Regions from separate parts of the Homo sapiens genome. Here all the other regions are linked to region 1. The links come from fine-mapping of genetic effects on gene expression. A gene starts in region 1. Each other region holds a variant in brackets. All regions are shown on one strand. Distances are between the middles of the regions. Region 1 holds the start of MSC (musculin). Region 2 holds the start of LOC124900257 (U8 small nucleolar RNA). Region 3 overlaps TRPA1 (transient receptor potential cation channel subfamily A member 1).

The links. PIP is the estimated chance that this variant, and not a neighbour inherited with it, causes the effect.
Region 2: its variant is fine-mapped to the expression of MSC in whole blood (TOPMed, PIP above 0.99).
Region 3: its variant is fine-mapped to the expression of MSC in whole blood (INTERVAL, PIP 0.97).

Annotation. Positions count from the first base shown.
Region 1 is chr8:71,841,286-71,849,649 of GRCh38, reverse strand. It overlaps MSC (musculin), which reads left to right and starts at 5,238. Exons shown (of 2, transcript NM_005098.4): 1 at 5,238-6,005; 2 at 6,903-8,090. The coding sequence starts at 5,472. The coding sequence ends at 6,989. It overlaps MSC-AS1 (MSC antisense RNA 1), which reads right to left and starts at 6,527. Exons shown (of 5, transcript NR_033652.1): 1 at 5,946-6,527; 2 at 5,228-5,421. RefSeq lists silencers at 3,731-3,780, 5,620-5,889 and an enhancer at 7,585-8,364.
Region 2 is chr8:71,811,666-71,823,138 of GRCh38, reverse strand. It overlaps LOC124900257 (U8 small nucleolar RNA), which reads left to right and starts at 7,514; the gene lies at 7,514-7,645. The variant C/T (reference allele first, on the strand shown) is at 5,350.
Region 3 is chr8:72,052,476-72,057,475 of GRCh38, reverse strand. It overlaps TRPA1 (transient receptor potential cation channel subfamily A member 1), which reads left to right. Exons shown (of 27, transcript NM_007332.3): 10 at 459-559; 11 at 1,621-1,790; 12 at 1,876-2,040; 13 at 3,609-3,723; 14 at 4,711-4,877. It overlaps MSC-AS1 (MSC antisense RNA 1), which reads right to left. Exons shown (of 5, transcript NR_033652.1): 5 at 1,164-4,937. Among named protein-coding and RNA genes, the nearest start is that of TRPA1, 21 kb to the left of the region's middle. The variant GTCTA/A (reference allele first, on the strand shown) is at 2,969.

The sequences.
Region 1 (8,364 bases):
AGCTTCTGCATAAGAGTGAAAGGCTGTTCCAGGGGTTTACAAAATAAGATTATTTTCAGACCTACAAGCCACACTCCTAACCCAGACTAGGACTGGGTTAGTATTCTCCAACATCCTTCAGGATTCTCCAACATCATGGAGGGCCACGGATTATGTAAACAGGCCTCCTACAGAAGACTTCACTACAGCACCTTCACTTTCTGAAAGCTGGGCTTCTATACTAGGCCAATTGAGTAATCAAAGTCATTTACAGGAAACACACAGCATTCCAGTTGGAACTTGGGGTTCCCAGGACAGTTAAGCCTCAGCACCTGCTCCCTAAAATCTAGAGATATTGTTTAAAAAAAATTTCCTGCAGAAGCTGCCTACAGTTTTTGTTGTCAAGACAATCAATGAGGGCGTTTTTCTTTTCTCCTGAAAGGCTGAGTCTTATCGCTTTCCCTCTCCCCAGCCTACCCCCAGCCCCATTTTTCATTGTTTATTTGTTAAGCCTGGCTTTTCCACCTTCAACCTCCACAAACCATCCAGGCACTGGCTTCTCCATGCTAAGGCCTCATGACTTTCGGAGGGAAGGGTAAAAAATCTTGCTGCAATCCTTAGATAAATAAACCAGCAGCAGAGGCCTGTTTGTGTTGTGGATGACAAAGGACTCCACATGTAGGCTTTGACTATTTCCATGGATGCCCAACCTGATGGCTGGTAGAGCCCGGGTGAAGGGAGTTTTCTTCCTTTCCTGGTCTGAAGAGTGGTGGCATCCTGCACAACACCAGGACAGAGGCTGCCCTGAGCCTGGAGCAGAGCCCAAGGCTTTGTGCAGACAAGGGACAGGCCTTGGGTTATCCAGACCTAACCCTGGGTCTTACACGTGACCTGTCCCCACCTGACTGGCTCCCCATGTGACTAGCATGCCACGTGGCCAACACACACTGGGACTAGCATTCCATGTGACTAACACACCACTGAGGAGGAGCGTTCATTTTCCCAGCACGTGTGTGTGTCTGGTGGGGTGTGTTATAGACAGGAGGTTGAATACACGTGGTAAGACGCAGTCTGGATAATACAGAGAAGCTTATTTCCACAAGAATGTGCCCTCCCAGTGGGTGAGAGTGGGTCTCACCAACACCTTGCCACAACCAACAGTAGATACTCAGTCCATAGGGGTATAGTTAATCCATGAGATTAATCCCTGAGTTGTCCAATAGAAATATAATGGGACCGGTATATTTAATTCTACATTTTTAGTAACCATATGATAATAATTTTAAATGGTGAAATTAATTTTTGTAATATATTTCATTTAACCTAATAGATCCAAAATGTCCTCACAGATTGACATAAATTTATATTTTAAAATATTAATGAGAGCTTTTATATTCTTTTATTCATAGTAAGTTTTCAATACTGGTTATGCATTTTACACTATAGTACCTGAATAGCCACATTTCAAGTGCTCAATAGCCTAATGTGGCTAATGGCTTCCATATTGGCCAGTGCTGATCTAGATTATTCATTTTCCTAGATCAAAAGTATAGGCAATTGGCCGAAGGTATGGCAATTCCTCCAGGCAACAGGAGGCTGTGGGTTGGTCCCACTGCTGTTTCTTAAGTACCTACTCACTACATAGTTTTGGCATGGCCTTCACAGAGGACAGAGGAAGCCTTTGCTCTTCCTGAGTCCTAAGTCCACATGACCTACCCAGTTCTAGAGTTTCTCACCCATTACTTAATATGCTGTTGGAGGAAGGAAGTGGCAACAAATGGCCTTTTTTCTATGATGTGTAATTATCATCCCATCTCATGGCTCCCTTTTTAAAAAACAAACCAAGCCTGCATTGTTAAATGTTTCAATCTGTTAGGCACTGATCTGTGTTCCACCTGGGCATGCTCCTTTGACCTACACCACACCACCAGCAGGATTTCTGGCTTAATCCTTTATGCCAGTAGGGAAAGTAAGGCTTGGAAAAGCACTGCAATTTTAGGGTGAGAGAATTTGGGGGACGAAAAGAAAATTTCTAACGACGTCCCATCCATTTTTCCCTCAGTGAAGTCCCTCATGGGACCTGTGAAAAATGTCATGTGATGAGACCATGTACTTCAGACCCTAGCAGCCTGTAGTCAAAGCAAATGAAAGACCCTGGTACTATCTGAAACCCAGAATAGGCCCTGGAGTACAAAACTTGGGTCAGGTCATTGCCCTAACTTTTACTAGCTGTGTGATATTGGGCAAGGCAATTCATAATACTAACTAGCATTTACTGATCTTCTCCCATGTACCAGGCTCTGACCTAGCCAACTGCTCATATACTTTCTCTTCCGCTCAGAGAGATAATCCATTTTATAGATTAGAAAACTAGGGCTCAAAAAATGCAAATTCCAGAAGTCATATATCCAGCAAGCACGGAAGCCAGGATGAAGAAATATTAAAGGTAATATTAAAAGAATTATTAAATATTTTGTTTTATAATGCAACTTAAGCCCTACTCACCCCATTGAATATTTTTTAAATGTCACTAAAGAATTTCAAGACCATTGATGTACACACAAACAGTCTATACCTGTTTCACATCTAAGAGTTTGTAAAGCATAAGCAAATAGGAATTGATTTCAGTGTGTTTATAAGATAAAAATAAAGGCTGTATTATTCATTTCAGTATGTCACTTGTCAAAACCATGAAAAACACTGGGCTTTCAAAAGAGAGAGTTATACTTACACTGTTCAGCTCGAGAAGCTGTTGTAATCATCCAAGGAGAAGAAAAAGTAATAGCACTTTGAAAGTGGAAGGAGGTGACCAAATGCCAGATATTACAAACATGTTAAAGCAAACTGCAGTTATATGCTTATAAAAAATGCATATAAGGTACATTTCCTAACCTTCATTACCAGTCTGCAACTTGAAAACAGAGTTACAAGTGAAAATATAACTTAATTTCACAAAAATGAAAGAAATGGAGGTTAAATGAAAGATGATGAAACAAACAAAATAAAATAGCTGACTTTCTTGAAAGCGAACAGAGGGAGGGTGAGGAGATGGAGTAGAAGAGAAAGGGAGGGAAGTAGGGAGGGAGGGGAAGACAGAGAAAGAAGACAGGGAGGGAAAGGCGAGTGCTGTGAAAAATAAGCCCGAACTGGTGGGGTCAGACCATTTCTTCAAGAAATAAAGAAACTGGCCATGACCTCCTCAGCGTTGAGGCTGGGTATAGTTTTTGTGACTGTTTAGAGAAATCTAGCGCTCTCCTCACCATTAATCTTTTCTAAAGAAAGACTTTGTTCTGCACCTGTATAAACAATTCAGATTTTAAAAACCTATTCGCCTGCCCCTAATGTGTGAGACTATATATTTATACTGATAGCTTCAAGTCATCAATAGTCGTTGCAGAGAGCTAGCCTGGCTCTCCTCGGTCCATCTCTTTGCCCCTCTTTGTCGCTCTCCTCTCCTTCACCTGGCAAGGCGATCCTAGAGTCAAGTTCAAGTTCAAACGCTCCAGGAAAGATTTCTACACTCTGTCAAATATTCCCTGCATTTCCCTACCCTAGAGAGAGCTGAGGGCAAATGATCTTTTTATTCACATTGTCCCAGAACCAGCCCACCCCCTGCCCCCAACCAAAAGACAACTTGTACAGGGAGAAAACCTTTGCAAATGTGGGTGAGCCGGAGGGGTTATGTGAAACATTCCCCCGGCCCCAAAACGCCCCTGCTAAGGGTAGCGTGGCCTGGGAGACTAAGGTGGAATGATGCCTGAGTGATGAAGTCAGCCTCTGCCAGCCACCTGTTGCAGCACTTCAGCCATCGAGCTGGACGCATTTGTTCTGCTGTACGAACTGGCGGGAGCCAGGCTGGCCCAGCTATCTCTGCCAGCTCTGTCCTGGACTGACTCCACATAGGTCCCCTTGCACCTTGCTCAGCTTGGGAGCCTGTGGACTTTCAGGAAAAGAACAAGTGAACACCTAAGCCTGTGTGACGACTCAGTTTCATCATTGTAAAATGGGGTAACCATATGCCAAACTCATACGGGTTTTATTACTCAGTGAGCTGCTCACAAGCCGCGAGTACAGTGACGGGCACACAGCGGGCACTCAGTCTCTGACCACTGGGGCCCGTATCCACAGACGTACTTATCCCCTGACCAGGAACTGCGATGACCTTCGAGTTAGGAAATAATGAGACTGCAAAATTGTTGTGTTTTCTTGTGTGGAAGAGCAGGATGTTTTAGTCTTGTTTGGAATGGAACATGATCATTCAGGGTGCTCCTTTGTCGTTTTTACTTTGAATGGACGATTGTGCTAACTTAGCATTCTGCTTCCAGGAGCTCGCTCTTCAATACACAATCTATTAAATACAATAGCAAGGATTCCCTACATTATAATGCAAAGCTTTAGGGCCGGATCCTCCAACACACGCATTGTGGTATTAAAACAAAATCACATCACGCATGGAACTCTCAAGATAGTGGAAAATACCAGCTACAACATCCAGTGATGTGTGACCCGGAGGCACGGAGCTGACTAGAATACCGACGGGCCAGAATTTCAAAACGCGGATTTTGAATCTTTTTTTCTACTTAGCCTAATAAGTTTGGGTCTTTTACTTAACGTCTATCTAGGCGGCTCAGCTTCAAGTTCTGCAAATTGGAGATAATATCATTAAGTTACAGATGTTATTTGAAAAGGCAACGAACCATTGTAACCATTTTTGTAAACCATGAAGGTATATTATAAGAAAAGGAGGAGGAAAATGAGAGGTAACTTGTGCATTGTTGGATGTTGTTTGCCTGTTCTGCTTTTTCTCTTGTCCAGCAAGGCTTGGGTAGACAATCATACATCATGAATGGTTAACTTGAAAACTGAGTTCTACTGGAAAGACTGGCAGGCAAGCAGAGGTCGGAATCCCGTCGTTTCTAAGTGTCTGGTAATCTTTGCCACTGCTAAGATTACCTGGGGGTAGAAGCACCGTCGGTAGGAACAAGATGTGCCCCTTCACTCCCCGAAAGCTCACTTATCCTGCGCAGACATGTTGAAGGGCCGTCGGGCTTCAGAGCCCAAATCTCGGCTCTGCAGAGACGTCCCCTTCCCCCGCCTCCACCAACCGCTCTTCGGCATGCAGAAAAGCGGTCCCCACCCCTTCCACGCCCCTGCCCCACCTCTTGGCCCCCTTTACAACCCCCTCTTCTTTGCCCGGGGTGGTTTGTTCCAAGGAGTACAGATAGCCTTTTCAAAAGGCGCAGCTTACCGCGGTGCGCGCGGATTCTGGACTTGGGCGCCAACTCGTAGTCCACGCTCCCCGGGGTCAGCAGAGGGGCGCTCACGCTCTCGCCACCCACCTCGCTTTCTCACCCCGCGCTTCCCGGCCTGGGTTTTTAGTCTTCCTTGGAGCGCTCTCTGGCCTCCGCCTCCGCCAGGGAGCGGAAGGCGGAGACAGCGAGACTGGCCAGGGGGGAGGAAAGAGGACGCGTGTGGGCAAGGGGGACAACGGGATGTCCACGGGCTCGGTGAGTGATCCGGAGGAGATGGAGCTTCGGGGGCTGCAGCGGGAGTACCCGGTCCCCGCCTCCAAGAGGCCGCCCCTCCGCGGCGTAGAGCGCAGCTACGCCTCGCCCAGTGACAACTCGTCGGCAGAGGAGGAGGACCCCGACGGCGAGGAGGAGCGCTGCGCTCTGGGCACAGCCGGCAGCGCGGAAGGCTGCAAGAGGAAGCGGCCCCGTGTGGCTGGGGGCGGCGGCGCAGGTGGTAGCGCGGGCGGTGGTGGCAAGAAGCCCCTCCCGGCCAAGGGCTCAGCCGCAGAGTGCAAGCAGTCGCAGCGGAACGCGGCCAACGCCCGTGAGCGTGCCCGGATGCGCGTGCTGAGCAAAGCCTTCTCCAGGCTCAAGACCAGCCTGCCCTGGGTGCCCCCCGACACTAAGCTCTCCAAGCTGGACACGCTCCGGCTGGCTTCCAGTTACATCGCTCACCTGCGGCAGCTGTTGCAGGAGGACCGCTATGAGAACGGCTACGTGCACCCAGTGAACCTGGTAGGGGCGCGGCGCGCAAGGATTCGGGAGAGCAGCCAGGAGATACCCAGGGCGCTCCTGGGCGCCGGGCAGGGTCAGCCCGTTGGGAAGAATTCGAAAGGGGTGGAGGTTCTGGGACTGGGAACGAGAAGGCCAGTTTAGTTTCTCCCAAATCAAGGGAGTGGCCAGCCATTTCCCTGAAGAAGAATCAACCCTCCGTGTCTGTTTGCATCGTTCTGAACATTGTACCCCAGTGACAGCCATTGACTAATATCCTACTTCCAGGGTAAATCTTGGTTCCATCTCCATCTGCCACCAGGTTGCAGACTGACGGCAAATCTCCCTTGCCCAACTTAATCCAGCTGAGTCGGGCAGGTTTGAATCGGCAAGCCCTTTCTTAAAGGAGGGAAGGCCGAGCTCTATAAAAGAGCATTTGCATTTTTAGAAAAATTGCTTGTGGAAGATAGTAACGTTTCCCCAGATGGGATTTATCTGGAAAGTCCCTCTCTGATCTGCCAGCTCTCCCGGCTTGGGAAAAATCCTGTCCAAGCCCAGTTCCTACTTGGAGCTTGGAGTGGATGACTGTGTGTGTGTGTGTGTGTGTGTGTGTGTGTGCGTGTGTGTGTGTGTGTGTTGGGGAAGGGAACTAAACGACAGAACCTCAAAGTCAGATGAGTTTCACCAAATTATCCTGCGGGCAAAGTCCAGGAAGAAGCGTGAACGGATATGGCAAGTCTCGGATTATCAACCTCCAGTAAAATGAAAATCTTAGTTCAGAGAGAGGACATGCAAATTCCCAGAATGCTGATAAAATCTTAGCTACTCCAAGTCAGGAATATCTGGGGTTCGCGTAGGAGAGCTGTTTCGGTTTGAGACAATCGTTTCTCTCTAATATCTCACGTTCTTTTTGATTTACAGACATGGCCATTCGTGGTCTCGGGAAGACCGGACTCTGACACCAAAGAAGTTTCCGCAGCCAACAGACTATGTGGAACCACCGCTTAAATCGGACTGGAACTCACTTGATGGGATTATTCGTTAAATGCGAGTGTTTGGGGGCCACGGAGAGAAGGGAGAGCTCGTGAGATGGGAAGAAGTTTCCGCTGGATTCTCCTTGACCCTTCCCCTTTCCCTGGAACTGTGATCGTGACAGGTGGCGGGTGTGGCTGTCACTGCACAGCGCCCACGGCTACAGCTGCGCCGGATCTGGGCGACCACGTTTTGCCTCTCCAAAAAGAGCTTCCTTTCGTGACGAGACGCGGACGCAGGTCCACCCTCGGGCCCTAGCTCTGTAGACTAACTCTCGGCTGCTGCCCCAGCCCGCGCCAGACAGCCCACGGATCCGTTCTCAGCGGAGCCAGATTCATCGCACACGTGCGGGACGGTTCCACACAGCCCCGGCCTTTCGCGGTGACACAATGGTTAGGGAACGGTTAGAACGCGCTCTACATCCGCTTTAAAGACAGAGGTCTAGACGTGAGATCCGCGTCGGGACAGGGTTTTAAGTGACAAAGAAGGGCGAGTGGCTTCTCTGGGCCGGGTTCGTACTCCAGCACAGCGCCCTTCTAACGGGCGGGAGGAAGGCCGCTGCTCGCAGGGCTAGGTGGAGACACACTTCCCAGATCACCGCAGGCGGGTTTTACCCGGAGAGCTCTGGGCCGTTCGGCCTCCCTGCCGGGTGGCTTCTTCAATCCCGTCTCCTTCCCAAGCTCCCGGCTTTTTCTAATCAGGCAGGCGTCTGTCAACCCTCTCCACTTCTGGGCTGAAGCCTCCCCAAGCCCCGCTGCGCCAACCTGTGTGGGGTCTTCTTCGGGCCTCCCTCTCCGCCCCGCTCCTGCTCCTACCTGCAGCACCCCCAGCTCCGACTCCAGACTCTCTGCATCAGGTCTCCCCACTCCACGCTCCGGGCGCCCCAACTCCAACACCACGTCCTGCCGCGCAGGTTCTTCCCCGCGCGGAGGAGCGCGCAGGGTGGGCGGCTTACCATAGCAAGTGATCCTGCGATAGGGAACGCGCCCTTGCCCCGAGGCTGCACTACCACAGGAAATAACATATGTAAATAAATTTATTTTTTTATGAATAATAAAACGCGCTGTAAAAACCGTGTGCCCCTTGGAGGTGTCAGGATGTGGTCTTTGTTGCCCTTTACTAAGAGGGTTTGGCTGTAGAAGTTAACTTTTAAGGGCTGATCTCCTCTGGTCAGGGCGGTGGGTCATTGCGGGAGGAATGGTGGCGATCACTTTTGGATCACTCCATTTCCAAACGTCATTCTTTATTAATCTCTATGATTCTGCTGCTTCTCCGCGCCGGGCTTCCTGGAAGGCCATAACTGGAGGCCTAATAAAAGTCCTGAGTCTTGAGGCCCCTGCTGTCCTGACAG
Region 2 (11,473 bases), 28 kb after region 1:
ATTCAGGAGCAGGTTGTTCAGTTTCATGTAGTTGAGCGGTTTTGAGTGAGTTTCTGAATACTGAGTTCTAGTTTGACTGCACTGCGGTCTGTGAAACAGTTTGTTATAATTTCTGTTCTTTTACATTTGCTGAGGAGTGCTTTACTTCCAACTCTGTGGACAATTTTGGAATAGGTGTGGTGTGGTTTTGAGAAGAATGTATATTCTGTTGATTTGGGGTGGAGAGTTCTGTAGATGTCTATTAGGTCCACTTGGTGCAGCTGAGTTCAATTCCTGGATATCCTTGTTAACTTTCTGTGTCGTTGATCTGTCTAATGTTGACAGTGGGGTGTTAAAGTCTCCCATTATTATTGTGTGGGAGTCTAAGTCTCTTTGTAGTTCTATAAGGACTTGCTTTATGAATCTGGGTGCTCCTGTATTGGGCGCATATGTATTTAGGATAGTTAGCTCTTCTTGTTGAATTGATCCCTTTACCATTATGTAATGGCCTTCTTTGTCTCTTTTGATCTTTGTTGGTTTAAAGTCTGTTTTATCACAGACTAGGATTGCAACCCCTGCCTTTTTTTGTTTTCCATTTCTTGGTAGATCTTCCTCCATCCCTTTATTTTGAGCCTATTTGTGTCTCTGCACATGGCATGGGTTTCCTGAATACAGCCCACTGATGGGTCTTGACTCTTTACCCAATTTGCCAGTCTGTGTCTTTTAATTGGAGCATTTAGCCCATTTACATTCAAGGTTAATGTTGTTATGTGTGAATTTGATCCTGTCATTATGATGTTAGCTGGTTAGTTTGTTCGTTAGTTGATGCAGTTTCTTCCTAGCCTCAATGGCCTTTACAATTTGGCATGTTTTTGCAGCGGCTGGTACCGGTTGTTCCTTTCCATGTTTAGTGCTTCCTTCAGGAGCTCTTGTAGGGCAGGCCTGGTGGTGACAAAATCTCTCAGCATTTGCTTGTCTGTAAAGGATTTTATTTCTCCTTCACTTATGAAGCTTAGTTTGGCTGGTTATGAAATTCTGGGTTGAAAATTCTTTTCTTTAAGAATGTTGAATATTGGCCCCTACTCTCTTCTGGCTTGTAGAGTTTCTGCCGAGAGATCCGCTGTTAGTCTGATGGGCTTCCCTTTGTGGGTAACCCAACCTTTCTCTCTGGCTGCCCTTAATAATTTTTTCTTCATTTCAACTTTGGTGAATTTGACAATTATGTGTCTTGGAGTTGCTCTTCTCAAGGAGTATCTTTGTGGCGTTCTCTGTATTTCCTGAATTTGAATGTTGGCCTGCCTTGCTAGATTGGGGAAGTTCTCCTGGGTAATATCCTGCAGAGTGTTTTCCAACTTGGTTCCATTCTCCTCATCACTTTCAGGTACACCAATCAGACGTAGATTTGGTCTTTTCACATAGTCCCATATTTCTTGGAGGCTTTTTTCGTTTCTTTTTATTCTTTTTTCTCTAAAGTTCTCTTCTCGTTTCATGTCATTCATTTGATCTTCCATCACTGATACCCTTTCTTCGAGTTGATCGAATTGGCTACTGAGGCTTGTGCATTCGTCACGTAGTTCTCGTGCCTTGGTTTTCAGCTCCATCAGGTCCTTTAAGGAATTCTCTGCATTGGTTATTCTAGTTAGCCATTCGTCTAATTTTTTTCAAGGTTTTTAACTTCTTTGCCATGGGTTCGAACATCCTCCTTTAGCTTGGAGTAGTTTGATCGTCTGAAGCCTTCTTCTCTCAACTCATTAAAGTCATTCTCCATCCAGCTTTGTTCTGTTGCTGGTGAGGAGCTGTGTTCCTTTGGAGGAGAGGAGGTGCTCTGAATTTTAGAGTTTCCAGTTTTTCTGCTCTGTTTTTTCCCCATCTTTGTGGTTTTTATCTACCTTTGGTCTTTGATGATGGTGATGTACAGATGGGGTTTTGGTGTGGATGTCCTTTCTGCTTGCTAGTTTTCCTTCTAACAGTCAGGACCCTCAGCTGCAGGTCTGTTGGTATTTGCTGGAGGTCCACTCCAGACCCTGTTTGCCTGGGTATCAGCAGCAGAGGCTGCAGAACAGGGGATATTGGTGAACAGCAAATGTTGCTGCCTAATCTTTCCTCTGGAAGTTTTGTCTCAGAGGAGTACCTGGCCATGTGAGGTGTCAGTCAGCCCCTACTGGGGGGTGCCTCCCAGTTAGGCTACTCGGGGGTCAGGGACCCACTTGAGGAGGCAGTCTGTCCACTCTCAGATCTCCAGCTGTGTGCTGGGATAACCACTACTCTCTTCAAAGCTGTCAGACAGGGACATTTAAGTCTGCAGAGGATTCTGCTGCCTTTTGTATGGTTATGCCCTGCCCCCAAAGGTGGAGTCTAGAGAGGCAAGCAGGCCTCCTTGAGCTGCGGTGGGCTCCACCCAGTTCGAGCTTCCCAGCCGCTTTGTTTACCTACTCAAGCCTCGGCAATGGTGGGCGCCCCTCCTCCAGCCTCGCTGACGCCTTGTAGTTTGATCTCAGACTGCTGTGCCAGCAATCAGAGAGGCTCTGTGGGTGTAGGACCCTCTGAGCCAGGTGCAGGATATAATCTCCTGGTGTGCCGTTTGCTAAGACCATTGGAAAAGCGCAGTATTAGGGTGGGAGTGACCCAATTTTCCAGGTGCCCTCTGTCACCCCTTTCTTTGAGTAGGAAAGGGAATTCCTTAACCCATTGTGCTTCCCGGGTGAGGTGATGCTTCTCTCTGCTTTGGCTCATGCTCGGTGCACTGCACCCACTGTCCTGCACCCACTCTCCAACACTCCCCAGTGAGATGAACCCAGTACCTCAGTTGGAAATGCAGAAATCACCCGTCTTCTGTGTCTCTCATGCTGGGAGCTGTAGACTGGAGCTGTTCCTATTCGGCCATCTTGGCTCCACCCCTCACAAAGACAATATTTTTAACATGTTTTCTTGCCCTTGGAGCAAAGAACAGCAAAGACTAGTTGACTTAATCTGATTTGAGGCAAAACTCTTGACAGGCATTAGTAACCTGAATGTATATTGCCCTCTTGTGGCCATAGTGTTATCACAGGAATGTAGGTGTGTCCATGAGAAAGAACTGTAGTAATTTGGGGAAACTGTTTGTATAATACTATGGTTGTTATTACGATGTACAGATTTTAATTGCTTCATTGTCCCACCATCAGCTATATACATACATACATAGGTACACAGACACACAACTCTGAATCCTATATTAACAAAAATGTGCACATGAATTTTTGGAAGTTTTCAAACTATAAGTAACATCTAAACAGCCCAGACCCCATGTTTTCTTCCTTGCTTATTTCTTAGGAAAAGGGCTCTTTGACAAGAATTTTGAGGTTTTTGTTTTTGAATACAGTTTTAATCTTATGTTTCCTTTTGGTGTAATCTGGAGCCATGGTTTCCAGACTTTTTGATTTCCCAGAAGAAAATTCCAAAAATATTACAAATGATATTGGTGATTTCAATTATTTTTGTTTTGCCAAATTAGACATTTAAAATAATTAGTTTCAAACTACTATCATCATAATTTCAAAAAATAAAGTGCATTCTAACATTCAGGAAAAAATGTAGGGGCGATGTGATGACTATTGTGGCTTCAGTTTTTCTCCCTAATGGCCATCACAGGTGGGCGGCAGGAGGTGAACATTTAGAAACCACTGAGTGATGGCACAAGCCAGGTGCATTGGGTTATTTTCCAGTTGACTGGTCATTAGCTAAAATTAAGACTGTATTGATATGAGACAAAGCACAGAGTGTAAATGTGGGTCTTCAAGGATTTCTCCCTTTCTACAAAAACCCTGTTTCTCCCTCCTTGCATCTCAGTTTGTACTGCTGTGGGGACTGCCAGTTCACAGGTTGCTATGGGTGTTTTCTCCACTCACACTGCCAGGCCCAGGCTTGGAACTGTCCCTTGGCTTGCCTGATGGCACCTTCTTGATTTCTTCCTCCTGCCCTGGCCACTTCTAGTTAGTCCCTTTTGCAGGCTCAGCATTCCTTGCCAGAGCCCAATGTAATCCCTATGATGATCATTTGAAGGCATGAAGACACCATCACATTCATCCTACGGATATTTTCCAAGCTGAGAACCATCAAGTCTTTCATCTGATCTTTATTCATCATTACACTCACTCTCTAGAGTCCTAGTTGCCCTCCCTTGGATGTGCTCAAATTTGCAGATGCCATTCTCAAGGAGCAACAGCATCAGGTACAACAGACCCTGCCTACTGCCTCCTTTGCTCTGTTTATTACATTCTTACTAATGCAGCCCAGGATTTTTGGGTTGACAAGCACATTATTTTCCATTTTTATTGACTTAATTTAATTGTTCTTCACACATTTCACTGTCAATCTCTTTAATCTCTCCTCGTACCGTTGTTGCATCTTATCTCAATTTTGTAGCTTTGCACATATGTTCATGTTAAACTAGCAAAATTAAAATGGCCTTTAAATTTCTTTCGTCGTGGGCCCCAATTAAATTAACTTTGGGATATCTACCCACTGGGTGTGAAGTTCTATTAATTTCTCAAATTTGCTTCCCTGTTTGGGAGGCTGAAGGAAAATGTGCCTTGAAGAAGATTTCCATAGTTCAGCAGCAGTTTGGGTATTTGACAGAGAACAGAGGAGCTCGGCTTATTTTAAACACTGGAAATTGCCTCATCAAAAGAAATCCTAGACAACAAAAATACTTTGCCTCTCTGATGGAATAAAGGTGTATTTGTTTCCTAGGACTGTTACAAATTATTATAAACTCGGTGGCTTAAAATAACAGAAATTTATTTCTCTCTCATAGTCCTAGAGGCTAGAATCTGAAATCAAATGTCAGCAGGGCCGAGCTTCTCCTGACAGCTCTTGAGGAGGGGCCTTCTGTTTCTTTCAGCTTTTGGTGGCCCCAAGCATTCCCTGGCTTCTGGCTGCACAATTCCACTCTCTGCCTCCATCTCCACGTGGCTGCTGTCTTTTGTAAGACACTTGTCATCAGATTTAAGGCCCACCTGGATAATCTAGGATGATCTCATCTTGATATCCATAATTTAATTATATCAGCAAAGAAGACTTTTTTTACCAAACAAGTTCACATGTACAAGGTCCAGGGAGTAGGATGTAACATTTCTTGGGGGCCCCCATTCCACCTACCACAATAGGCCATCCTATTGCCTCGAGTTACATGGTTACCAAGGATTCTGGGGCTTGGCTATGTAGTCTTAGTTTTAAAGCCCATCAGTCACCACCAGTTACTCACCCCACCTCACAGTTTCTTTTTCTTTTCTTCTGTTGCATCTAGCTTGTTGAATCTCCCTAGGGTTGGTGAAGTTGGATTTTTTGACACAGAAAATAAATTTTCTGTGTGGTCTCCAAACAAGCTAT[C/T]GGAACTCAATTTCAATTTCTGATCTGTCCTTGTTACTGAGCAGTTGTATTGTGACAGTAAAAGTTTTGTGGGTCTAGCATGAATGACATTATCACTAGGAACATCCTAGGCTGCATATGTACAGAGGCCTGAGAAGTGAATACCACAGAGTCAAGTTTTCACCTGATGTAAATTGTGAGTTTGGTTTCTGGATGGGGAACGTTTATTAGGTATGAGTTTTACAAATATCTTCCCCTCTTCTGATGCCTGTTCTTTCCCCTTCTATCAATTCATCACCTTTTTGAATGGTATTCTTTGAGGAACAGAAATTTGTAATTTTACTGTAAGCAAATATATTTTTATTGTTATGCAGCAAGGAATAAGTTTCAGAAACATACAACATAATAATGCTATGTATAGAGAATTTAAACACAGGCAAAGAAATGCCATATGTTGCTTGGAGATACACTCATATGTAGCAAAAGTGGAAAAAAAGTGCATAGGAATAGAGCACCAAATTCAGGTTGGTGGCAAGAAATGGGTGCAATTCAGGACAGAAACACAAAGAACACTAAAGTTACTATTAATATTTTTGGTTTTTAAGCTGAATGGCAAATTTAAAATTAAAGAAGTTTGGAATTCACTACCTCTTCTCCTGCTGGCTTTTTCTACTTGGGGGGAATGTGTTAACTTATAGAATCATTAATGTCACTTTCAAGCTTAACATCAGTTTTGGCACTGAACATGCAACAACGCTCTCTATCTGTGAATTCTGATGGGGCATGAGAACTGCACCAACTTAATCACTGCTTACTTCTTCTGTGTTATTGGGGAAAATTGTGGGGTATATGGAAAAGGGAAAGAAAGCTTTCCTTTATTGACGTATATTTCATAAAGATTTTCCATTCATAAATATTATATACTGTGCTTCTAGAACAAAAGTTGAAAGTGATCATTTGGTAGTGAATTTTGTAGACAGATATCATTAATTTGTCTTTTCTTTTTCTTGTTTCATTTATCCCCAGTAAACACTCTATGTGCAGTTGAGACATTCTCCTTGGGATGGATTCTTATCTCACAAAATGCTCACATGCCTTTTTCCTGACTTCAGTTGGGAGAAGCAGACTTTCACAAAGAAAATCCCCTCTGAAGGCTGAGCAGAAACAGGTGCCTGTGTCCTCTCTAAAAGTTGTATTTTGGTGCCGTAGTAAATCAAGTCAACAATTAAATGAACACGTATTGAGCACCTGCTTCTGAGGTGCTTAGCACCAGATATGCTCTCTGTCCTCAGGAGTGTTCACTCTGGTTAGGGAAGAGTGAGGAAGGAAGGGTAATATTACTATAGACTAAATGCTTTTACCCACCCAAAATTTGTATATTGAAGCCCTAATCCCCAATGTGATGGTATTTTGAGCTAAGGCCTTTGGGAGGTGATTAGGTCATGAGGGTGGAGCCATCATTATGAACTTAATGCTCTTAGAAGGAGGAACATGACAGCTCTCTCTCTCTCTGTCTTCTCTTCTATGCCCTTCTCTCTCTCTGTCGTGTGAGAAAACTAGAAAGAGAGCCCTTACTAGAACCTGACCATGCTTGATCTCAGACTGTCAAGTCTCCAGATGTCTGTTGTTTTAGACACCCAATCTGTGGTATTTCGTTATAACAACCTGAGCTAAGACAAACATGTACAGCAATTCTTATAAAGGCAGATATGCTAAATTCAAGCTTCCTTCATTTTATTCTCATTTTCTCAATACCTTTCCTCCTTACCTAAGATTAATACCCAGAAGCCAATGCCAACTCTTCTAGTCAAGGGCACTGAATAACTCTCAAGGGCCATTGGGTATTTGCCCAGTGGCTTGTGAGTGACCTGCAGTGCTTCTACTTTCAAAAGGGCAGAGACACAGTGTATCACAACAACTCTAGCAATTCCACACAATAACTTTCTCTCTTCAAAAGGAATTGCTGAAGAGTGAATTGCTCATTGGACAAGTCAGACCCAGCTCTAACTTGGTCAACTGGTTTGCTCCCTGAGAATAACTAGGTGGATTTTCCCATTGGTTATTGCCAAATTGGAAGGATGTTGGTGCGGCTTTAATGATCCCTAGAGTGGCTAAATTGTTTTAGGAAAAGATGGACTGTGGAAGGACTTGCTCATTCTGTTGAGCATTTAAAAGAGATGCATTATCCACAGGTGAGATCATCCTTACCTGTTCCTTCTTTTGGAGGGCAGAGTTCACGATGACTAGAGTTTACATGATATGTGATTAATTCTCTGCATAATCAGGATTTGCAACATTCTGTTTGCTCCTACCTGATTCTTTCTGAAGAAGAAAAGAATAAATTTAAAAATAAGTGTATTATCATGGAGCATTGAGAATCATCCACAAGTGTAACTTTGGTTAATTAAAAATCTTTTGTTAAAAATATACATACATATATAATTATGAAAATCATAATAGTTAAAATAATGAAAATAATAATTAGAATCAAGTACTTGGTTTTAATATATATACAAGCAGGTAAATAACAATTAAGAATAGTAATTACTGAATGCTAGAACCATGCTGAAGTTGTTTCATAGGTTATTTTCATTGAATTCTTACAATAACTTTCTGGGGTGAAAAATATTTATCCACATTTCACAATGAAATAAAACAAGATTCTGGGAAGTTAAATTAAATGCCAAGGGCTGGGCGTGGTGGCTCACGTCTGTAATCCCAGCACTTTGGGAGGCCGAGGCGGGTGGATCACTTGAGGTCAGAAGTTCAAGACAAACCTGCCCAACATGGTGAAACCCCGTCTCTACTAAAAATATAAAAAATTAGCCAGGCATGGTGGCAGGCGCCTGTAGTCCCAGGTCCTCGTGAGGCTGAGACAGGAGAATGGCGCGAACCCGGGAGGCGGAGCTTGCAGTGAGCCGAGATCGCGCCACTGCACTTGAGCCTGGGTGACAGAGCGAGACTCCGTCTCAAAAACAAACAAACAAACAAAAAAATTAGCCAGTCCTGGTGGCACGCCTGTAATCTCAGTTACTTACTTAGAAGTCTGAGGCAGGAGGATTGCTTGAACCCGAGAGGCAGAGGTTGCAGTGAGCTGAGATTGCGCCACTGCAATCCAGCCTGGGTGACAGAACGAGACTCTGTCAAAAAAAAAGAAAAAAAAAAAAAAAGGCCCAAGAGCCTGGAACTGCTGAGTGCTAGAGTTGAGATTTAAACCCAGGCTACCTTACTTCATGTTCATGCTTTGACTACTTCACTTCACTGCCTTCTCCAGAGGATTTCTCCCCAAAGAACCTTGCTTTTGTGCATAGCTCTTAGTTCAGAGGGGCACTAAGGAAGAGAAAATGTCATATTTGCTTATCAAAGAAGTTATTGGGAAATCTAGCCAAATGGGTAAAGAAGTATATCAGTCATGAGGAAAAGAAGAATTGGCAATGAAGGAAACTGGCCAATCTTATCTTCACACTTATCTCTTCATGGGTCCGTGGCTTGCTGTGCCCTCTCCTCGTCCCACTCACTCTTTGCACCGCTGAAGAAATCATCAGTAATATTCTTCAGACTCAATATTTGTTAAGTGCCTCTGTCTTGCAATTAATAATTTCTATGAACATTAATCACTGGATATCTGACATGCTTCAGTTCAAAGACTATGGCCCAAGTGTTTATGAGCCATTTCCATAAAACAAGAAATGGCTGGTTTTACCTGAATAGTTGCCCTTAAATCCCTTAAAAATCACAGGGTGTATGTTTTTACCTGGTTTAATAGATGAAGGACTATAGTTTTTGCTTCCTGATCCCAAATTTCAATGAGTTTTCAAAGAAAGGCTCATAGACATGGCTGTATCCATGCACAAAACTCCGAAGGTATGTTTCTTCATAAGATCACTGTAAGTTGGGGGCTTGAAACCTGAGACAGATTTTAAAAGTCACTCTTCTCCTCCCTTTCTGTTTGACTACTTGTCTTCCTATTTTCTGTCTTATTAATAGTACTAGCTAATATTCCTTGAGTGTTATATTGTACCAGACCCTAAGCCTAGAGGCATGAGCTCTCAGAACAACCCTATGGGATGGGTACACTTGAAAAGATTGCTGCTTAGAGACCTTCAGTCACTTGCCCCAAATGACACAGCAGCAAGTCAGTGGCAGCACCTTTGCCTGAGCTCAGTGTTTCACTCCAGAGCCTGCACTCCCAGTCACTCATGCTGCTGCTCCCCCTCAAAGGCTGGAACTTTATAGCTTTTAGCATTTCTCCTTTACCCCTTGTCTCATTAGTCCTGGGAAGCATTGTTGGGGAGTATGGATTTCACACCCGGCATGAAAGAAAAAGGGCTTCGTGAGTAAAGTGAGAGAAGTGTGAGAACATTCCATGCAATCAGGGCAGCTACTTTGGTAGTTCTAAGGACGTGAACTTTCATCAGCTCTGTGATCCCAAGTTCAGGGACGAGGTGAATGCAGGAAAGGAAAGGGGAGGCGAGGCTATGGGGTTGGACCTAGAGTCATTCGTGTTGACTCCTCCTGTGGACTGTGTTTCTCAACCCTTTAAAGCAAAAATCAACCAAATTCAATCTGCACTTCAAAAAGGTTTTGCAATGAGCCACTCATTTTATTTATTCATTCAGCATGCATCTTGACCCAGCAATTAGATATAAGGTACTATGCTTAACATGAGAAATATCAAAAGGAATAGAACGTGTGCCCGACATAAAGGAGCTGTCACCCAGTGAGGATGGTGAACGGAAGGGCAATGTAAAGTGATAACAAACAGCATGGCTTAGAGAAGGAAAGGAAATGGGTTGACATCTGCAACCCAAACACACAAGCTGCGTAATCACAGGCAAACCATGTAACTCCTCTAACCCTCAGTTTCCACATCTATACAATTTCACACTTATGAATGGGGGGATTGGAAATAATGCTTATGAGATATATCACAGAGTTCCTATCATGGTATCCAAAGTCAACAACGTTAGCTGTTATGGTCATTATGTCAAGAAATAGTTGCCTTTTATTATAAGTCCTATAATGGAGGTACATTTTATCATGGAAAACAAATTCTGCGATGATAAGGAAGATGTCCCAAAGCATCAAAAGATTTGATACAAGATGTAAATAATTATACGTTTGACAGGCAAACAAAATGGGAAGTGAGAGGCATTCTAGACAAAAGCAATAGCTTCTGCAAAGGCAGAAGGATTGAAGTGGATGATTGTGTTGTGCTCAGGGGTTGGCAGTTTGGGGGAAGAGTGTGGAAAAAATGGAGAGGGAGCCTGCAGCAGGACCTCGTGAGTCCTGTGGTCCTCGCTGAGAAGTCTCTTTCCTAGCAAGTCCCTGGAGGTCATGGAATGGATAAAGTTGCAATAGTATCTGCTACACTTCAAAAAAATTGATGGAAATAATTTTAGGTTAACAAAGAAGATTTATAAAACCACAAAGATTGTTATTTTCCAAAAGGAAAGCACCCTATGGCAACACGCTTTGACTGTTTGCCAAAGGATAAAATATTTTCCATGGTGAGAGAAAGGAGAAGGCTGAAGGCTAAATGATCATTCTGCTAAATATATCAATTCATTGTATTCTTTCCTGTATTAATTGTATGATCTTTCTCCAGTTGATTTCTTACACCCAAAACACAAGAAAAATTTAAACCTCAGCAAGCAAAACAAGAATGACATTTGATGCACTGTGCCACTTTCCTGAGTTGCCTTTGGAAAAGGATGTGGCAGTGAGCCCAGTGAAAGTTGTTCTGGCTGAACCACTCAGATTTTTTTTTTTTAATGAAATCCACAAAGATCTTAACACTTGCAGTGTTTCTACTGTTGTCACTCCCTCATGCCAATAGCTTTGGATTTTAAATGACTTGTAAATGAAATACCAATTTGGGAGGCCAAAAAATAATCCTGTGAGTGCAATATAATATTTATTCCTAGTACAAAGTGACCTCCCATAAGGAATATGAATCTCTTTGATGTTCTTGCAGTGTTGGCATGAAAAAAGGGGCAGGCTGTTGGCTACTGTTGTTTATCAGTACTAGAATCCATTTTGGCTGGAAGATGTAAGAGGAAATCACTGAAAAATATAAAAGAGTGAATAAATGAAAATGGGGTTTTTCTTGTTGAATTTTCAACTTAAATTAGGATATATCCAA
Region 3 (5,000 bases), 210 kb before region 1:
GCAATTGTTATATCCCAGGCATTTGCTGAACATTTAATTAACTGTCTTTCAATGTATCAGTCCTGTGTGGTGTAGGTACTATAACTTTCCCTGTTTTAGATTCTAACCTGGGCCTCTGATAACAAAGGAGCGAGGTGTCCTTCTCTGCTATCTTCTTCTTTCTTGATCTCTAATGTGTCTATACTTACATTTTATGCTTTAAAAGGTAAGGCTTCATGTATTTATGTAATGCATCACATATTTTCTACCCCACTTACACATACAGACACACACACACACAGAGAGTAAGTTAAACCTGATTTTAAATATGTTTAGTTTTCTCATCTAAACACAATTTCCTGTAAACTAAAGGTCGACAATATTTTTAGTCAAATTTTTTTTTGCTAAGTTGAAAATCCACGTAAACATTGCTTTAAATAAATGAATAGAATTTATATTTACATAGTGTTTTTTTTTAGGTGCCCAAGTAGACATAAAAGATAATTTTGGACGTAATTTTCTGCATTTAACTGTACAGCAACCTTATGGATTAAAAAATCTGCGACCTGAATTTATGCAGGTAATGTATATCTGTGGATTGCCATTAACTGAGTTGGGTTCAACAGAAAATAAACTAATTTTGTTTATTATAATTTTTGTTATTATATAAACTGATTCTGGAATTTTAAAAATGTTTTAAAATAAAGATGACATATTTGACTATTTAGTTACAACATGGTGATGGTGGTGGTGGTGATGATTATGACAATGATAATTAATTGTAGTGAGACTGAGTTTTTTAACTTACAAAGAAACTTAATATGCAGTCATCTATGATAAAGATAACATCCTTAATTAGTTTGATTTTCTTCATTCTTTGACCATTATGATTTGCATATCAGTGGAAAAGCCAAATATAAGAATGAATTATCAATACTCCACCATCAATTAAGAAAAATTACTCAGCATACTTGACTTTCTGAGGAGAGGTTGAAAGCATTATTTTTATATTTATATTCACCAGCTAATACTTACTGAGTGACTAGCACATGTATGTGAAATACATCATATTTTTATCATCAATAGATTTCAATATTGCCAGTATTTAATAATCAAAATATATATGTGTTTGAATATTTAAAAAATAACAAAATATTAATTGATAGGCTTAAGCTTCTCATTTATCATTCATTTTTTATTTACTATACATATAAAACATAAAATAAACCTAATGTTTACATCCCATCCATTTTACCTAACAGAACATATTAACATGAAGCTGTTGGGTGTTATTTGGGGGTGGGAGGAAATAAGAGGAGGGGCAGAGGGAAGGGCCATGATCAAATATATTTGAAAAATGCTGAGTTAAAAATGTTAAGTACATTTTCCTATTGGCATGATCTCTCAGATCCTTTAATACAGTAATGTACACTAATATGGTAATGTACACTAAATGAAGACAGAGCATTCAACTTCATTCATATTTATATTACTCTCAAATCCTTTAGGTTATTTACAATTTTGGCCCCAAGGAATACATATTGACCCTTGTTGGAAAATATTTTCCTACAGAATAGTTTGAAAACCATCATATTAGCATAATAGCAGAGTTATTTGTATGATATTAATTTTTTCCTATAGATGCAACAGATCAAAGAGCTGGTAATGGATGAAGACAACGATGGGTGTACTCCTCTACATTATGCATGTAGACAGGGGGGCCCTGGTTCTGTAAATAACCTACTTGGCTTTAATGTGTCCATTCATTCCAAAAGCAAAGATAAGAAATCACCTCTGCATTTTGCAGCCAGGTAAGGGTCAGTCTAGCAATGTATGAACATGTCTTCTTTCTGTTTAATATTTGCCTTGAAAATATGAAACCTAATTTTTTCCAAGTTATGGGCGTATCAATACCTGTCAGAGGCTCCTACAAGACATAAGTGATACGAGGCTTCTGAATGAAGGTGACCTTCATGGAATGACTCCTCTCCATCTGGCAGCAAAGAATGGACATGATAAAGTAGTTCAGCTTCTTCTGAAAAAAGGTGCATTGTTTCTCAGGTGAGGATATATGATTGGAGTGTTTATATAATTTCTTTAATTAGCCATTTTCAGGCTATCTTTTCATTATATTTTTAATTATGAGGTCTAACTTTATATCTCACTAAGTACTTTTATCCAATTTATTTTTTCATCAAAACATATGTAACTTCTAAAAATACTGAAAGGGAAGTCAGTATTATTTCCAACTGACAAAGACTTTGAAGTTTATAGCGTTGAAGAACCTTGTTCAAGAATATTCTGTTCACAGAATAATTGGCTTTGTGCAGTCTTTCTCAGAACCTTTCTTTGAAACATAGTTTCTCATATTTTACCTCATCATGCTGCCATATTCCTATATAGATACAAAACTGTGGTTGTGTATGTGTGTATGCACGTACACACACACACAAAACATACAAGTTCAAATACTCTACTTTTCATTCAATCTGATGAATGGTAGGCATAAAAAGTTCCCTTTAAGTGACAACAGGAGATGGTAAAAATTTCTGAATTTTATTATACTTAAATGAACTCAAGTACAAGAAACAAAGTTAAAATATGTAAGTATAATAAAATATGTGGCATAATTAAATGATATTGTGATAAGAAAGAAAAAACCTGGAAATGTTTTACAGAGGTTTTTCATTTGATATCTTACCATAGCAGTAGCAAAGAGCTTATTAGGCTAATGTTCAAAAACACATTTCCTTACCATAATATTGATGCCAGCAAATTGGTGCTACAGCTACATGAATGAATGTTTTGCTCAGTTTTTTCTGGTTTACAAAGAAACACCAAGCAACTGACCTGCAAAGGGGACCGAAGTAGACCCAGGCCAGACAGTTGTTGCTTAATTACATCATAACTGAAATAGCAACATGGCTCTTGCACCCTAAAACATCTGCTCACTAGCACTGAAATTAAATAGTGTCAAGAATTTTTTTCT[GTCTA/A]ATTTGAAAAAAGATAGCTAATATGACAAGGCTTTGTTGTATTTACATCTTGAATTTCTGTGGAAAAGGATAAACATTTTTCAAAGCAATTGAGTAAGCATTTTTCAGAGCACAAGAGGGAAGCTTTTTAGATTTAAACTCTTAGAATAATAACTGACACTAAGCTAAGCATCTTATAGCCATGTATCATATTACTAGTAGTATTACCAATAACTATTGACCACAAAGACTAACATTACTTCATAAAAAAATTTTGATACAGTGTTCATTGAAAGAATAAAACAAGATTTAAATTGATGTGTATCAGTTCATTATAGCTTTAAAAAAATTAGGTATGACACAGACATGCTAAGCGTACTTCTCCTACCCCAAAGTGTTTGGTAATGTGTTTATATACTTTCATATTTTAAACCACTAAGTAAAAAACGTGTATGAATCACATTAGAAATAGGTCATTTAAGATCATTGAGCTTGGAATTAGCTCATTTATTATAAATGTTTTATAAATATTTAGTTGCCAGATCTCAATAATGCTTTTTGTTGTCATCAGATTTACCTAGAATAAGCCAAGTGGCATCCCATCCCGCATTTCATCTGTTAAGTGTATGCACACATCTTTTCTTAACTCTTTACCAGTGACCACAATGGCTGGACAGCTTTGCATCATGCGTCCATGGGCGGGTACACTCAGACCATGAAGGTCATTCTTGATACTAATTTGAAGTGCACAGATCGCCTGGATGAAGACGGGGTATGTACTGCGGTCCTCATGCTTACCCAAAATCTCAATATAGCAGAAACTTCCAACATTGCCAGAAAACTCTCCTAGACACCTTTTACCTTCCTTGCTCTATTCCCAGCCTTTTGTTGGGTGTTTAGCAAGTGGATTCTTGAGGTGAAGTATGAATCAAAAGGCAACAGAATTGGGAGAATACCAAGGGGTGGGTGAATGTTGGGGAAACCTCCAGTCTCACAGAGCAGCGAGGTCCACAGGCCAATGAAATTTGATGGTAAAGCGTTTACTCCCTGGTAGGTCCAGAGAAATGAAGGCAGGGGTGAGTTTTCATTAAGATAAGTGTTATTTTGAAGTGTATTGATTTGAAATGCTGCCCTTTATTGTGCTATTATGTCTTTCCTTCCTTTGGGGAGAGTAACTTTTGAAATGTACGTTTGTTCATAAAATGATGGGGATAGAAGACTGTTGTTGCCTTTTTCAAAAAAAAAAAGTCTTTAAGTGGAGAAACTAAAAATGGGCAAACTTATAACAGTCTCTGATTTTAAAAAACATTTACAAGCTTGTGAAGCCCCAAATCTGTAAGCCACTGTTCTACAAATGATCAATCTCAGGAGGATTTTCTTCTGTGTTCAACCCAACATCTTTACCCTGAAAGCTTGTCCTTTGTCCTTGTGGAATCATCCCATTGCAAAAGCAACACAAAACAAATGCCTTGGAATTCATTCTCTCTCTCTCTCTCTCTCTCTCTCTCTCTCTCTCTTTCTCTATCTCTCACACACACACACACACACACACACACACAGATCCACTTCCCACACATGCACACACACCATGCTAGAACTATAAACTCATTATTTTGAAGCTTGATTCTGAACACCAGTTTTAAGTGCTATGTATTTTGGTATTAAATAGTGTCGCTAATGTCTTTTAAGCAGTTAAGCAGTGAAATAAGACAGATTAGACACTGTCACCACGTTTTCTGTGTCTGTTTTTCTTCAAAAGAACACTGCACTTCACTTTGCTGCAAGGGAAGGCCACGCCAAAGCCGTTGCGCTTCTTCTGAGCCACAATGCTGACATAGTCCTGAACAAGCAGCAGGCCTCCTTTTTGCACCTTGCACTTCACAATAAGAGGAAGGAGGTTGTTCTTACGATCATCAGGAGCAAAAGGTACACTGTCTTCCTGTCCACTGTCATTTAGTGTTCTCTGGTGTTGGGATGATTTGAAGTCTGAGACAAAATAAGAGAAAAGAAATGATTTTCAGCCATTAATCAAAATTTAAAATATCAGTT